2 separate regions of the Homo sapiens genome follow, and region 2 is linked to region 1. The links come from fine-mapping of genetic effects on gene expression. Tissue or cell type: fibroblasts. Region 1 holds a variant in brackets; the other region holds the start of a gene. All regions are shown on one strand. Distances are between the middles of the regions.

Region 1 (8,105 bases):
TCTGCTCCATTGGTCTACATGTCTGTTTTGGTACCAGTACCATGCTGTTTTGGTTACTGTAGCCTTGTAGTATAGTTTGAAGTCAGGTAGTGTGATGCTTCCAGCTTTGTTCTTTTGGCTTAGTATTGTCTTGGCTATATGGGGTCTTCTTTGATTCCATATGAAATTTAAAATTGTTTTTTCTAATTCTGTGAAGAATGTCAGTGGTAGTTTGATGGCAATAGCATTGAATATATAAATTACTTTGGGCAGTGTGGCCATTTTCACAATATTGGTTCTTCCTATCCATGAGGATGGAATATTTTTCCATTTTTTTGTGCCCTCTCTTATTTCCTTGAGCAGTGGTTTGTAGTTCTCCTTGAGGAAGTCCTTCACATCTTTTGTTAGCTGTATTCCTAGGTATTTTATTCTCTTTGTAGCAATTGTGAATGGGACTTCATTAATGATTTGGCTCTGTGCTTGTCTATTGTTGGTGTAAAGGAATGCTTGTGATTTTTGCACATTGACTTTGTATCCTGAGACTTTTGAAGTTGCTTATCAGTTAAAGAAGTTTTGGGGCTGAGATGATGGGGTTTTCTAAATATAAAATCATGTCATCTGCAAACAGAGACAATTTGACTTCCTCTCTTCCTATTTGAATACCCTTTATTTCTTTCTCTTGCCTGATTTCCTGGCCAGAAATTCTAATACGGTGTTGAATAGGAGTGGTGAGAGGAGAGCATCCTTCTCTTGTACTGGTTTTCAAAGGGAATGCTTCCAGCTTTTCCCCATTCAATATGATGGTGGCTATGGGTTTGTCATAAATAGCTCTTATTATTTTGATATATGTTCTATTAATACCTAGTTTATTGAGAGTTTTTAACATGAAGGGATGTTGAATTTTATCAAAGGCCTTTTCTGTATCTATTAGATAATCATGTGGTTTTTTCTTTGGTTCCATTTATGTGCTGGATTACATTTATTGATTTGCATATGTTGAACCAGCCTTGCATCCCAAGGCTGAAGCCAACTAGATCATGGCAGATAAGTTTTTTGATGTGCTACTGGATTTGGTTTGCCAGTATTTTATTGAGAATTTTTGCATCTATGTTCATCAGGGATATTGGCCTGAAGTTTTCTTTTTTTGTTGTGTCTCTTCCTGGTTTTGGTATCAGGATGATGCTGGCTTCATAAAATGAGTTAGAGAGGAGTCCCTCCTTTTTAACTGTTTGGAATAGTTTCAGAAGGAATGGTACCAGCTCCTCTTTGTATTTCTGGTAGAATTCAGCTGTGAATCCATCTGGTCCTGGTCTTTTTTTTTTTTTTTTTTTTTTTTTGGTTGGTAGGCTATTAATTACTGCCTCAAATTCAGGGCTTGTTATTGGTCTATTCAGGGATTCAACTTCTTTTTGATTTAGTCTTGGTAGGGTGTATGCATCCAGGAATTTATCCATTTCTAGATTTTCTAGTTTATTTGCATAGAGATGTTTATAGTATTCTCTGATGGTAGTTTGTATTTCTGTGGAGTCAGTGGTGATATCCTCTTTATCATCTTCTATTGTGTCTATTTGATTCTTCTCTCTCTTCTTCTTTATTAGTTTAGCTAGCAGTCTATCTGTTTCGTTAATTTAAAAAAAAAGGCCGGGCGCGGTGGCTCACGCCTGTAATCCCAGCACTTTGGGAGGCCGAGGCGGGCGGATCACGAGGTCAGGAGATCGAGACCATCCCGGCTAAAACGGTGAAACCCCGTCTCTACTAAAAATACAAAAAATTAGCCGGGCGTAGTGGCGGGCGCCTGTAGTCCCAGCTACTTGGGAGGCTGAGGCAGGAGAATGGCGTGAACCCGGGAGGCGGAGCTTGCAGTGAGCCGAGATTGCGCCACTGCACTCCAGCCTGGGCGACAGAGCGAGACTCCGTCTCAAAAAAAAAAAAAAAAAAAAAAAACCTGCTCCTGGATTCATATAATTTTTGGAGGGTTTTTCATGTCTCTATCTCATTCAATTCTTCTCTGATCTTAGTTATTTCTTGTCTTCTGCTAGCTTTTGGATTAGTTTGCTCTTGCCTCTCTAGCTCTTTTAATTATGATGTTAAAGTGTCAATGTGAGATCTTTCTAGCTTTCTGAGGTAGGCATTTAGTGCTATAAATTTTCTTCTTAACACTGCTTTAGCTGTGTCTCAGGGATTCTGCTGTGTTGTCTCTTTGTACTCATTGGTTTCAAAGAACTTCTTGATTTCTGCCTTAATTTCATTATTTACACAGGAGTCATTCAGGAGGAGGTTGTTCAATTTCCATGAAATTGTGTGCTTTTGAGTGAGTTTCTTAATCTTGAGTTCAAATTTGATTGCATTGTGGTCTGAGAGACTGTTATGATTTCAGTTATTTTGCATTTATTGAGGAGTATTTTACTTCCAATTGTGTGGTCGATTTTAGAATAAGTGCCATGAGCACTGAGAAGAATGTACATTCTGTTGATTTGGGGTAGAGAGTTCTGTAGACGTCTACCAGGTACACTTGATCCAGAGCTGAGTTCAAGTCCTGAATATCCTTGTTAATTTTCTGTCTTGTTGATCTGTCTAATACTGACTGGGGTGTTAAAGTCTCCCACTATCATTGTGTGGGAGTCTGTCTCTTTGTAGGTCTCTAAGAACTTGTTTTATTGGGTGCCCCTGTATTGGGTGCATATATATTTATAATAGTTAGCTCTTCTTCTTGAATTGTTCCTTTTACCATTATGTAATGCCCTCTTTATCCTTTTTGATCTTTGTCGGTTTAAAGTCTGTTTTGTTAGAGCCTAGGATTGCAACCCCTGCTTTTTTTTTTTTATTTCTGAGATGCAGTCTTGCTCTCTCACCCAGGCTGGAGTGCAGTGGCACGAACTTAGCTCACTGCAACCTCTGCCTCCCAGTTCAAGAGATTCTCCTGCCTCAGCTTCCCTAGTAGCTAGGATTACAGGTGCCCACCGCCATGCCCAGCTAATTTTTGTATTTTTTGTAGAGACGGGGTTTCACCATGTTGGCCAGCCTGGTCAAGAGCTGAACTCCTGACCTCTGGTGATCCGCCCCCCTCAGCCTCCCAAGGTGCTGGGATTACAGGTGTGAGCCACCATGCCTGGCCACCCCTGCTTTTTTTTTGCTTTCCATTTACTTGGTAAATTTTCCTCCAACCTTTTATTTGGAGCCTGTGTGTGTCTTTGCACATAAGTTGGGTCTCCTGAATACAGCACATCGATGGGTCTTGACTCCTTATCCAGTTTGCCAGTCTGTGTCTTGTAATTGGGGCATTTAGTCCATTTACATTTAAGGTTAGTATTGTTATGTGTGAATTTGATCCTGTCATCATGATGCCATTTGGTTATTTTGCACACTAGTTGATGGAGTTTCTTCGTAGTGTCATTGGTCTTTATGTTTTGTTGTGTTTTTGCAGTGGTTGGTACCAGTTTTTCCTTTCCATATTTAGTGCTTCTTTCAGGAGCTCTTGCAGGGCAGGCCTGGTGGTAATGAAATCCCTCAGCGTTTGCTTGTCTGTAAAGGATTTTATTTCTCCTTTGCTTATGAAGCTTAGTTTGGCTGGATATGAAATTCTGGGTTGAAAATTATTTTAAGAATGTTGAATATTAGCCCACACTTTCTTCTGGCTTATAGAGTTTTTGCTGAGAGGTCTACCATTAGTCTGATGGGCTTCCCTTTCTAGGTGACCTGTTCTTTCTCTCTGGCTGCCCTTAACATTTTTTCCTTCATTTCAACCTTGGAGAATCTGACGATTATGTGTCTTGGGGTTGATCTTCTCATGGAGTATCTTAATGGTGTTCTCTGTATGTCCTGAATTTGCATGTTGGCCTGTCTTCTAGGTTGGAGAAATTCTCCTGGATAATATCCTGAAGTGTGTTTTCCAGCTTGTTTCCATTCTCCCCATTTCCTCTGGTACTCCAGTCAATCATAGGTTTGGTCTTTTTATAAAGTCCCATATTTCTTAAAGGCTTTGCTCATTCCTTTTCATTCTTTCTTCTCTATTCTTGTCTGCATGTCTTATTTCAGTAAGGTGGTCTTCAAACTCTGATATCCTTTCTTCTACTTGGTCAATTCAGCTGTTGTTACTTGTGTATGCTTCACGAAGTTCTTGTA[C/G]TATGTTTTTCAGCTCCATCAGGTCATTTACATTCCTCTCTAAACTCGTTATTCTAGTTAGCAATTCCTCTAACCTTTTATCAAGGTTCTTAGCTTCTTTGCATTGGGTTAGAACATGCTTCTTTAGCTCATCATAGTTTTTACTATTCATCTTCTGATGCTTACTTCTGTCAATTCGTCCATCTGATCCTCCATCCAGTTCTGTGCCCTTGATGGACAGACATTGCGATCATTTGGAGGAGAAGAGACACTCTGGTCTTTTGGGTTTTCAGCATTTTCTTTGTTGATTATTTCTCGTCTTTGTGAGTTGGTCTTGTTTCAGTCTTTGAGGCTGCTGACCCTTGGATGGGGTTTTTTGGGGGTCTTTTTGTTGTTTTTGTTATTGTTGATGATGCTATTGTTGCTTTCTGCTTGTTTTTCCTTCAATAGTCCTGTCCCTCTTCTGTAGGGCTGCTGCTGTGTGCTAGGGGTTTACTTCAGGCCCTATTAATCTGATTTGCTCTGTGCCTGGAGATGTCATTCAAGGAGGCTAGAGAGCAGCAAAGATGGGTACCTGATCCTTCTTCTGGGACCTCTGACCTTGAAGGACACCAACCTGATGCCACTAGGATTGCTCCTGTATATGGTGTCTGACAACCCATGTTGGAGGGTCTCACCCAGTTGGGTGGCATGGGGAGCAGGACTCGTTTAACAAAGCACTTTGTCCCTTGGTGGAGAGGGTATGTTTCACTGGAGGGAAACCCACTTATCTGGTCTGCCCAGATTCCTCAGAACTACCAGGAGGAGTGGTTAAGTCTGCTAGTCTGCAGAGACTGTGGCCACCCTTCCCCCTAGAGGCTCAGGCCCAGGGAGATCTGAATTCTGTCCCTGAGCCTCTGGCTGGGATTATTGGAGATCCTGCAGGGAAGCCCCACCCACTAAGGAAGGATGGGTCAGGGTTACGCCTGAAGAGGCTTGTAGTAGAGACAGGGTTTCACCATGTTGGCCAGGCTGGTGTAATACTCCTAACCTCAAGTGCTCTGCCCACCTCGGACTCTGAAAGTGCTGGATTGCAGGCATTAGCCGCCACTCCCAGCCCAAGTTCCCCCTTTTAATGCCTTTGAGAAGGTATAACCTGTGTCACTTTCTCAGATTTCAAGGTCCAGGGGTAGATTGCCAATAAACCCAATTCTGGGAGTCAGTGTCAGTACATTTCCCTGATATCACCCTGAAATCCTGATAAGTTAAAGTCAATAAACATTAGTTGAGTACCTGGTATGAGTCAGGCAACATGGCAGGCATTAGAGATACAAAGAGCTCATAGGCTGGTGAGGTGGACAGACATTTAAATGCAAAAATATAGTATAATGAATCCAATAGTAGAGGGATGTGCAAAGCAATAAAAGGGCAGGGAAAGCTTTGCAAAAGGAATGGATTGAGGTGGGTTTTGAATGATGAACAGGAGTTTGCCAGGTGGGAATAAGGAAAATAGCACAAGAAGGGAAAAGTAAGTGCAAAGCACATCCACAGGAACATCGTATTCTCAGGGAACTGAGCATGGTTCATTGTGGCCATAGTTTACTGCCTGGTTTCTGGCCTATTGGCACCCCCTCAGAAACTCTGTGGAGAGGACAGGAAGACATGCATGTGTGTAAGCATGTGTTCATCTATGCACTTGAATCTGAGGGTAGGAAGTGATGGCATTTTACAAGGCGGTGTCTGGAATCTTGTGAGTTGTGGTCAAATGCCGGAGCCTAGTGATGCTGTGTTAGGAAGGGGATTGCAGGGTGACACCTGATTCCTTGAGGCATTGAGATGACTGTTAATAAACAAAATTATAAGACACCTGGGGACAGGAAATATGTCCCATTTAGGACTTTAGAAAAATCAACTTTTGACTGATCCAATTTCAGCAATATGGCAGACTGAGAAACATGAAAACCCTCCCACTGCAATGCCTAGAAAGGATTTATAAAATATAATACAAATTATTTTAAATGCAAAGCCAAATTCATACATTCTTAAAACAGGAACATCTCCAAGTGCCAGAAAATGGGTCACTGGAAACCACAGAGGTGACCTGAAACCATAGGCCAGGGTAGTTCAGGGATAAGGGATGCAGATGGATAGTGAAGGGTAAGGGGAAGCTTACAAGGAGGAATCAAGAAATCCACAATCATAGTGAGACTGTAACACACCTCTCTGTTACTGATAGTTCAAGCAGACAAAAACCAAGGTTTAGATTTGAATATCATAGTAAACATTCTATTTGTCCTTGGGGAAACCAAACAAACATTATAGGATCCTCAGCCACAGCCTAAACCCTTGAAGCACTTTCTCAAAAGGAACAAAGATCCATGATATGGAAGTGAAGAGTGCTTCCCTCCTGTTTGGGATCTTACCTTTTATGTGAATCCTGAATGATAAATAAAAGTTCTAACAAATGAGCAGCTCTCACGAGGGACACAATGGATGAGGAGGATTCTTTTGACCCTGATTAGAAGGGAAGAGGAGCAATTGAGAAATAAATATTAGAGTTAAACTGTTGTGAATGTGTATTAGTTTTCTATGCTGTGTAACAAATTACCACATATTTAGGGGCTTAATACAAGACTAAGTGAAAGAAGTCAATCAAAAAAGACCACATATTATGCAAGTTCATTCACATGAAATGTCTTGAAAAGGCAAATTTATAGAGACAGTCAGTAGTTTAGTAATTGTGTAGGGCTGAGGAGTTGGGGAGTAACTGCTAATGTGTGTGGAGGTTTTTTGGGAGGAGATGAAATGTTCGAAGATTGTGGTAATGCTTACAAACTCAGTGAATACACTAAAATTCATTGAATTGTACATTTTAAATAGGTGAATTATATAGCATACAAATTATACCTCAATAAAGCAATTAAACATGCACACTAACACATACATACACACATTATCCTGTCACAGTTTCCATGGGTCATGATTCTAGGAACCATTCAGCTGGGTCCTCTGCTCTCAAATGGTTGCAATCAAGGTGTCATCTGGGCTATGTTCTCATCTGGAGGCTCAGTTAGGGAAAATTTGCTTCCAATCTCACTCAGGTTGTTAGCAGAATTCACCTTCTTGCATCTGTAGATCTGAGGGCTTTGGTTTCTTGCTGTATTGGGTAAAGACCACCCTCAGCCGCTAGAGGCTGCCTGCAGCTCCCAGCACACAGCCCTCTTCATATCCAGGTCACATCATGGCCACTTGCTTCTACAGAGCCAGTAGGAGAGCAACAGTGAGTGCCAGTAGCATGGAGTCTTCTTTAATGTATTATGACATAATCATAGGGGTGATATCCCATCACCTTTGCCATATGCTTTTGGTTAGAAGTAGGTTGCAGATCCAGCCGGGCGCGGTGGCTCACACCTGTAATCCCAGCACTTTGGGAGGCCGAGGCAGGCGGATCACGAGGTCAGGAGATTGAGACCATCCTGGCTAACACAGTGAAACCCCATCTGTACTAAAAATACAAAAACTTAGCCGGGCATAGTGGCAGGCACCTGTAATCCCAGCTACTCAGGAGGCTGAGGCAGGAGAATGGTGTGAACCCAGGAGGTGGAGCTTGCAGCGAGCTGAGATTGCGCCACTGCACTCCAGCCTGGGCGACAGAGCGAGACTCTGTCTCAAAAAAAAAAAAAAAAAAAAAGAAGTAGGTTGCAGATCCTACTCACACTCAAAGGAAGGGGATTTGAATATTAGAAGGCAGGGGTCATTGGGAGTAACCTTAGAGTCTGTCCACTGCTGGCCACGACCTGGATATAGACATTCTGTGTTGCTATCCTGGGACTGTTTATCAACAGCTTCCTCACCAATGCCAGAGCAGGGTAACGACTTCCCATCTCACCTTCGGCATGTTGTTGATACAATTTGTCCCATAGCCATTGCCTATAAATGATGGCGAACACAAAACTTGCTAGTTTTCACTTGTGTATTTTATAAAAGTACTATACGACTATGGAAACATTCCAAACAGTACAGATAGGTATAAGTATTAAGTAAAG
Region 2 (8,105 bases), 300 kb after region 1:
CAGTTGCTGCGCCAAACAATGAACAGAGAGACAAGGCATTCAATACACATGAGGACTGATGATCTGGGCTGAAAGAGCAGCAGAGGGAAGATTAGAAGGTCCACATGAGCAGAGTGGAGGGAGGGTAGGTTTCCTGCAGACACTGAGGATACATACCTTTGCATTGATCAGGAAGGACCTTGAATGTCAGGAAAAAGATCTAGGACCTGAAGTGAAAAGCAATGGTCAGAATGATCAAATGGAAGCCACGTTTTAGGGAAATCATTGCTCTCTTCTTCCCATGCTGTAGCGTGTGTATGTCCCCCAACTGGAGAATGTAATTAGAGTCCAATGCCACCTAACATCACTCCTTTACTGTCTCATGAGTGCATATTTTTACCTTCCCAAAAGAGAATGATGCATTCCTCAAGGGTAAGAACCAAGGTTGATTGTTACTTCATTTTGTTTTGTTTGAGACAGGTTCTCACTCTGTCACCAGGCTAAAGTGCAGTGGTGTAATCGTTGTTCACTGCAGCCTTGACCTCCTGGGCTCAATCGATGCTCCTATGTCAGTCTCCTGAGAAGTTGGGACCAGAGGCACGTGCTACCCAGCCTGGCTAATAAAAAAAGAGGAGTAGAGAAGGGGGGTCTCACTGTGTTGCCCAGGCTGGTCTTGAACTCCTGAGCTCAAGCCATCCACCCACCTTAGCCCCCAGAAATGTTGGGATTACAGGTGTGAGCCACCATGCCCAGCCTGATGTTTATTTTGAACATTGTGTGACTTTCAGGACAGTATTAGGCACAGGGTAGGCAATCAATGCTTACTTTAAAAAAATAAATTGTATGGAATCCTGGTTTCCTCTTCTTTCATTTTCTTCATAAGGAAAATGAATAGAGAATCCTAATTTCTAATAGGTGTCCCCCAGGGGCAAAAGTGTAAATCAGTTTGCCTTCTGTCACCTTCCCTTCCCTTTCCTATACTTTTCCTCTTTCTTCCTGGGTTCTTAACCACCAACATTTTGCTGCTGGAACTCTTAAGTCCCTGACTTGTATGTCTGGAACTCAAATTTCTCCCTTTTTCCTTTCCTCATTCATTTTCCTTAGGGCCTTGGGGAGATCATTGATGTCCCTTTCTTTCACCGAGTGAGTTCCTGGGCCAAACTATAACTGATCATCTACTTTAACAATCTGGCTGTCTTTGACACAGCTCTGCAACTTGCCTGAAAACTGTCCTGCTGAGTTCAAATGGTCACAGAAATAAGAAAGATATCGATTAAAGAAGTTTAGAAGGAGCCAGGAGTTGCTACATGAGTGACAGGCTGTTTGACTATTCTGTGAATAAAAAATAGTTTATACCCAACTGTGAGTTGGGAGAGGGTAGACTATGTTTGGTTAGAGCCTTTTTTTGGCTAAGAAAAAAAAAAATAACTTTTCAGGTTCCAGGAAATTTACAAAGCCTGACTTTTTCTCTCTCTTTTTCTCTCTCTCTCTCATTTGTCGTCTTGACTCTAAACTGATAATTTCAAAATTACTTCAAGAAGAAACAAAGAGTAGGCCAGGCGTGGTGGCTCACGCCTGTAATCCCAGCACTTTGGGAGGCCGAGGCAGGATCACTTGAGGTCAGGAATTCAAGACCAGCTTGACCAACATGGTGAAACCTTGTCTCTACTAAAAATTCAAAAATTAGCCAGATGTGGTTGTGCACATCTGTAATCCCAGCTACTTGGGAGGATGAGTCAGAAGAATCGCTTGAACGCAGGAGGCCAGGAGGTGGAGGTTTCAGTGAGACAAGATTGCACCACTGCACTCCAGCCTGGGCGACACAGTAAGACTCCATCTCAAAAAATAAATAAATAAATAAATAAAAAGAAAGAAAAGAAACAAAGAGTAACTTTCTCTTCCCTGGATTATTCTTTAGTTAACGTTTTAGAGCTTTAACCATCTGAGAAAGCCAGTTCCGTACTGTGAAATATGGCAGAAAACCCTTCAAAAACTTCACGTACAAATACTTCAAGGATCCTAGGTCCTTGAACAAGGTTCTTTGTAAAGTGAGAGTAAAAATCAGAGTCAGATAAGCTGCAACAGATAAGAGTGAAGTTTTGTTTGTAAAGGGTGATAACTCTGAATAAATATTTACATTTCTTCTTTTCTCTCTTATATTGGTTATAATGTAGAACTGGAGCCTGGTTGCTACTTCTGCTGTTATTTTGTGTTTAACAGAGAAAAGATCAAGTAATGGGCTCTAAAGGAAGTCTCTGCTTTTTTTTCCCATGACTCCAGTTTGGACTAAGACTAACCATGTGCTCAGTGCAAACCAAACTGCAGGCCCATTGTGTTAAATAAATCATCTTTCTTGGTAGAGTTGCTCTTGCCAACCCACACCACGCGGTAACCATGCTCCATGCTTTCCCTCCTTTGTAGCAAGGCTGGAGGTGATCCCAGTTCCCAGTCCCAGGGCTAACTCCACCCCACTTACTCCTCTCAAGAAAGCGCATCTTGTGTTTTTCAAATTACACAACCCCCAGCAATTCTGATCTTCCTGCACAGGGAGTGAATGCCACTTCCAATATCCCCTGACCCCCAGGAATCACTGTTTTAAACTAATGATCAATATCATCCTTAAGGATTCTTGCAGGTTAAAAAGCGATGCTTGGAGAGGTAACCAGTAGGATGAGGCTTCCATGGCAGAGATTAGGTGAAACAAGAAAGACACCTCTTCATTCTTACCTTCCAAGACTGTTGGCTGTTTTAGTGCCCAGTGAGCATTATTGTCTGTCTTACAAGATGACCTCTATGTAAGTATTCTGGTAACAGGTTAGCTATCCTCTTAATGAACTGCGTGTGTGTGTGTGTGTGTTGTATCATATTACTGGATGACTGAACAACCATGCATACAGTGTATGAGTGTGTGTTTGTGTGTGTATGTGTACTTATTCAAGACTGTTTAAAAAGGAGAGAGGAGCATAAATCTCTCTTATTCTGCAGGCACGCTTATATACCGTGTTGAAAGAAGAGAGCCTGGGCTTTTGAATAAGACTGAGATGTTTAAAATTTTTAAAAAAATTTTTTGAGGTAACTGTAAATTCGCTTGAAGTTGTAAGGAATAATAGAGAGATTCCCTATAGACGCTTCACTTAATTTTTCTCAATGGTAACATTTTGCATAACTGTAGAACAATATTACAATCAGTAAATGGACATTAGTGTAGTCCAAATGTCTTATTCAAATTTCATGAGTTTCACGTGCTCTCATTTGTGAGTGTATATTCAGTTCTATGCAATTTTGCCACATATGTGATCTGCTTTTGAATCTCAGTTCTGTGGAGTTCCTGCTGTGTGATCCTGAGGAAGCTCTTTGACTTCTGGGAGATCCATTTTCCTCATCTGCAAAATAATGTCTGCCTCCTAAGAGTGATGTGAGAATTAGATAAGATAATTTCTGTCGAGTTTCTAGCGCACTGGATTCTCAAGGAATGCTGGTTTCCTCTTGTCTGTTGCTTGCTTTCTCGGTAGAAAAGGAATCACCAGTTTCCTGCTAAAATAACCAGACTTGTGGGTTGTAATCCATCAGGCGGATCCTTCAAGGGCAACACATTTAACCCTGCAGCTCAAAAAGAACCATGGCCTGGACTTGGGATCCTATTTGACTGCAATGAGATCAGAAGTGTAGGGATGGGGGAGTGAGAACGCAGACTCTGGGGTAGTAGGTAGGAGGCGATTAATATCGAGCAACTGTTGGGCTGGGAACCACCAACTCCAAGGAGTTTTCGTCCTGTGTGGCTTGCGACCGAGGGTTAGCTTCACCCGGAGAAGGCTGCACAGGGGCGGGAGCCTGTGAGGACGTGGTGGGCAGGTGCGGAAGCCAGTGTAGACCCGGCAGGAGGGTCGCGCTCGCTCTACAGGGTTCCGAGTCACTTCTACAGCCCTTCTGCCTCCTGAACACCCTTTCCAATGTTGATGGCCAATCGACACCCGAGGGCTGGGAAATCACCCCCTTAAAGTCCCGCTTGCTGAAGGCGGGGGCCCTTCCTCTGCGCGAAGACGCTGCGGCCCGAGTGTCCGCGGTGCGGGTGAGTGTAGGCGTGTTGGGAAAGAAAGGGAGGCGGACAGGCAAGGGGCGAGGGTGGCAGCGCCAGCCCCAGCTCGGTGGCGACCTCGGGGCGCCAGCCTCCTACACCCGCACCCGGAGCCCCGGCGTTTCTAACTTCAGATCTCGGAGGCGGGCGCTCGGAGCGGGAGGGCGCGTCTGCGAGGGCTCAGGCGGCGCCGCCCGCTCCTCCCTCCGCTGCCTGAGCCGCGCGGGCCGCAGAGGAGGAGCCGCGCCGGGGCCGGCGTCGCCCTGACTCCTCCTCCCCGCGCGGGCCCGGCCCTTCCTCCCCGGCGTCCAGAGCTCCGGGTGGCCGCGGCCGAGCCGGGAGCCGAGCGCGCTGGGCGCGGCCGTCCCGCTGCCGCCGCCAAGCCCGGAGTGCGCCAGCGGCCATGGTTCCCGCGGCGGCGCCGGGCGCCTGAGCCCCGGGACGCAGTAAGTGGCGCAACCCCGGGGACCCGGACCCACGGCCTGGGGGTGCACGGAGGCCTCGCGCTGCCCCCGCGCCGTCGGCGAGGCCCTGAGAGCCCGGAGCGAACTGGGCACCGGATCACTCGGGGGCTTCCCATTTGGGGTCCGGGGCCAGCGGGGCGCAATCCCTGCGGGCCGGGAGGAAGCAGCGGCCGGGCGGGAGGACGAGGCGGGGACGGGGCTGCTTCGGAGGCGGGAGGAGGGGCCGGTCCCGGAGGCGCGGGCTGCGCGGGCGGGGGCGGGCCGGCGGGGGCGGGGAGGATGCGCGCTGCAGCCCGCGGCCCCCGAGAGCCGCGCTTTTGTAAGAGCTGGCCCCTTACATATGGAAATGACGCTCACGCGGGTCCCCATTCGCGTCCTTTTGAAGGACGCCCGCCCGGAACCGCTGCGCCGGCTGCGAAGTATTGTCCCGTTTCTCCAGCCCTAACAAAGCGTCCTCCTTCGCTTTGCAGAGCGCTGGAGGCGGGCTGCCGGCTGTGCGGGCGCTCCGGAGAGACCGACAGAAGGTAGGCGAGGGCGGCGGGGCCGGGGGAGCGCGCTGCCTGCCCACACAATGGGCTGTCTGAGGTTTCTGGTAGTGGCGATGGGCAGGCGAGTTGAGGACGCATCGCAGGTGGCCAGGGACTTGGGAGGCGCGCTTGTCCTGCGGCCGCACCTCCGCTTCCCCGCGCGGCAGCACCGCTGGGTTTGGGCACTTCCAGTACCCCCGACGCCCCGGCCGCCTGCCCGGAGCTGAAAGCCGCTTCTGTGCTTTGACCGAGAGCAGGCTTGAGTCCCCGAGGGAGCAGAAGGGGTGGTGGTTCCGTTGGCATGTGCCGCCCGTACAGCCTTGTGATTGAGACGCTGCAGAGGAAACTGCATGGGGAAATCCGAGGTGTTAGCCTGGGCTGTCTGAGTAGCGGAGAGCTGCTTGGAGCCCGGAAAGTGGAGATTTTTGGAGGTGTGCGGGGTCGATGCGCGTAAACAGTTTCCCAGTATAATGCCCAGGAGAAGGGGAAAGAACAAAATGACATTTGGTTATTGCCTAAAAGGTGTGGCATGGAGGTATGGAGTGTCGGGGAAGGAAGCTTCCAGCGGCTAGGCTTCTGTAGCTACCGAAGCGGCCCCTGACAGAAGGACACTAGGTGATGGGAACAGTCACTGCTTCCAGCTCTCGCTGCGAAGTTAAAAGAGATAGAGACGGAAAGAGGCAATTTCCCTAACCCCAGCCCTGACAACCCGAGGTGAAGGCACCAACAAAATGGGAGCTGGAAAGACTGCCCTACCATATATCATGTTTCCAGACAACTTGGATATTATGAGATCTGCTTTCTGCTCCTAACTAGGACAGATCCTCTCCTGGTGTTGAGGACTTCTAAGATGGGCTTGCCATACAGCTCAACTCCTGAATTTATTACATCGAAACAGATTGCGTAGTTGTCTTTTGTGACTGACATGGTAGCTTTGTAGGATGAGAATCCTGATAAAGTCCATCCTGACACATGAGGGAAGCCCCTGGAACCACGACGTTTCTCAGTTAGGTCCCCGTAAACACCATAACATACACACATGTTTGCATGATTCCGGAGGCTTGATGATCTAACAAGGAAAATTCCTTTTTTCTGTCAGTTTAATTTTACCTTGAGTCTTCTCTCGTGGTGAGCATATTATATAGGTGGCTGACCTGGAATATTGGTGGCTCTTGCTCCGGAGTTGAAGGGAGCTGAGGATTTCCAGAGTGTGTATAGGAGGAACATTACAGGCTGGCTGAAAAACGAGTTTGTGTGTTGTGGTCTCTTCAGCTATTGTCAGTGTCCTTTGGGAGGTGATGTGAACTGCCCGGGAATTTGTTTGCAGATTTGTTTATTTTCCCTGTTCTCTGGTGATTCTTTAGAGGGAAGCATTCTGCAGAGTGGGGAAAAGGTAGGATGAATGTTCCACAGGGTTGGACATCGGCAAAGTTATTACCAATACAGGGAAAGGCTTCACAGGGGGCAATAGAGAGGAAGCCATCATACAGTCTGCATTAAAATGTCAAGGATCAGTCATTTTAATAGGCACTTGCTCAGAATGGCGTGGGGTTCTTTTTTCTTATTTCTTTTTCATTTTAGATGTGTAATGACCCTTAATATCAAAAGATGTTAACTGTCACAGAGGGGGAGAATAGGGCTCCAGTGAATTCTGAACAGCCAATCTTAATGTAATAGGCAGTATTCTTATCATGAGTCAAATGTTCAAATAAATTGTTTTAAATGTCACTGCAAATGACTTTCTAAACTAACATTTCAACTATCTTGATGCTTCCATTTTATGTTGATAATGAAAATGCATTTTATCAGTCTTACATTGATAAAGGGTGGGCAAGCTTAGCCAGAGCATTTTAGAAGGATTTAAACAGCGTGAAGCCTTTTTAGAAGGCTTATTTTTATAGATGCCAATTCATTTGTAAGCCAATAAATTATCTGGTTTGAATTCTAGCTATTGAACTTGCATCTGTTGGGCAGGGGCTTATGGAGAGACTTAGTGAAGCTTGCAAAAAGATTTTTATCCTATTTATGAATAAAATAGAATTTTGAAAAGATTATGAGATTCTGAAAGTGAGCATCCTTGTTTGAAATTAGGACACTTCTTTATTGCAATTTAAGTCAGCAATTAACCATTTATTCAAGCTTTTGGATGGAAAAATTACAAAGCATCTATCTATACCCTAATTCTCACTTTAAAAACAAAGTTGGGAAAATATTGTTCATAGACGTGAGAAGAGAAGATCACCTTCACTTACACCTCAGGGTACCATACTCATAGCCTCAGGCATCCTAAATTAATGTGAGTCAATATGGCTTAAGAAGTGGAAGTTGTTATAAGCTTTCTCCTTTTTTTTTTTTTTTGTAACAAACATGCAGCTCTGTTTTCTGCTTCTGTAATTTACTTAGTAGTTGATTACAGGTTACTGAATGCACATTGTGCCAGGCTAATGGCGTTTTTTTGTTGTTGTGTTTTTTGTTTTTTGTTTTTTTTTTCCTGTAGCTAACCTGAGTTAACTACTTGATTGGGTAATCTACCAGTTATTAGGTTGAACAAAAGCATGGGTTTATTACATCCTTCAGGATAGTAAAATAATAAAGGTTGCTTACATTTTCGAATAAACGCTGATAGGATTCCCTTAGTTAAATATTATAGTGTAGTTGACAAAGGTTGTTATTTTTCTTTTTCTTTCTTTTTTTTTTTTTTTTTGATACGGAGTCTCTCGCTCTCTCCTGGGCTGGAGTGCAATGGCATGATCTCGGCACACTGCAACCTCTGCCTCCCAGGTTCAAGCAACACTTCTGCCTCAGCCTCCCGAGTAGCTGGGATTACAGGTGTGCGCCACCACACCTAGCTATTTTTTTTTTTTTTTTTGTATTTTTAGTAGAGACAGGGTTTCAACGTGTTAGCCAGGATGGCCCCGATCTCCTGACCTTGTGATCCACCTGCCTCAGCCTCCCAAAGTGCTATGATTACAGGCATGAGCCCCCGCTCCCAGCCATTTTTTCAAATGTATTTAATGTGACTTTCTTCCTGTGCATTTAAGCTTTCGTGTTATATTTTTG

What was found. PIP is the estimated chance that this variant, and not a neighbour inherited with it, causes the effect.
Region 2: it holds the start of NIN, and the variant in region 1 is fine-mapped to the expression of NIN in fibroblasts (GTEx, PIP 0.97).

The regions. Positions count from the first base shown.
Region 1 is chr14:51,128,503-51,136,607 of GRCh38, reverse strand. No RefSeq gene overlaps it. Among named protein-coding and RNA genes, the nearest start is that of TRIM9, 37 kb to the right of the region's middle. The variant C/G (reference allele first, on the strand shown) is at 4,102.
Region 2 is chr14:50,827,401-50,835,505 of GRCh38, reverse strand. NIN (ninein) reads left to right here and starts at 4,344. Exons shown (of 31, transcript NM_020921.4): 1 at 4,344-4,500; 2 at 4,989-5,042. RefSeq lists silencers at 4,003-4,452, 4,503-4,782, 4,853-4,902, 4,923-5,042 and an enhancer at 5,613-5,662.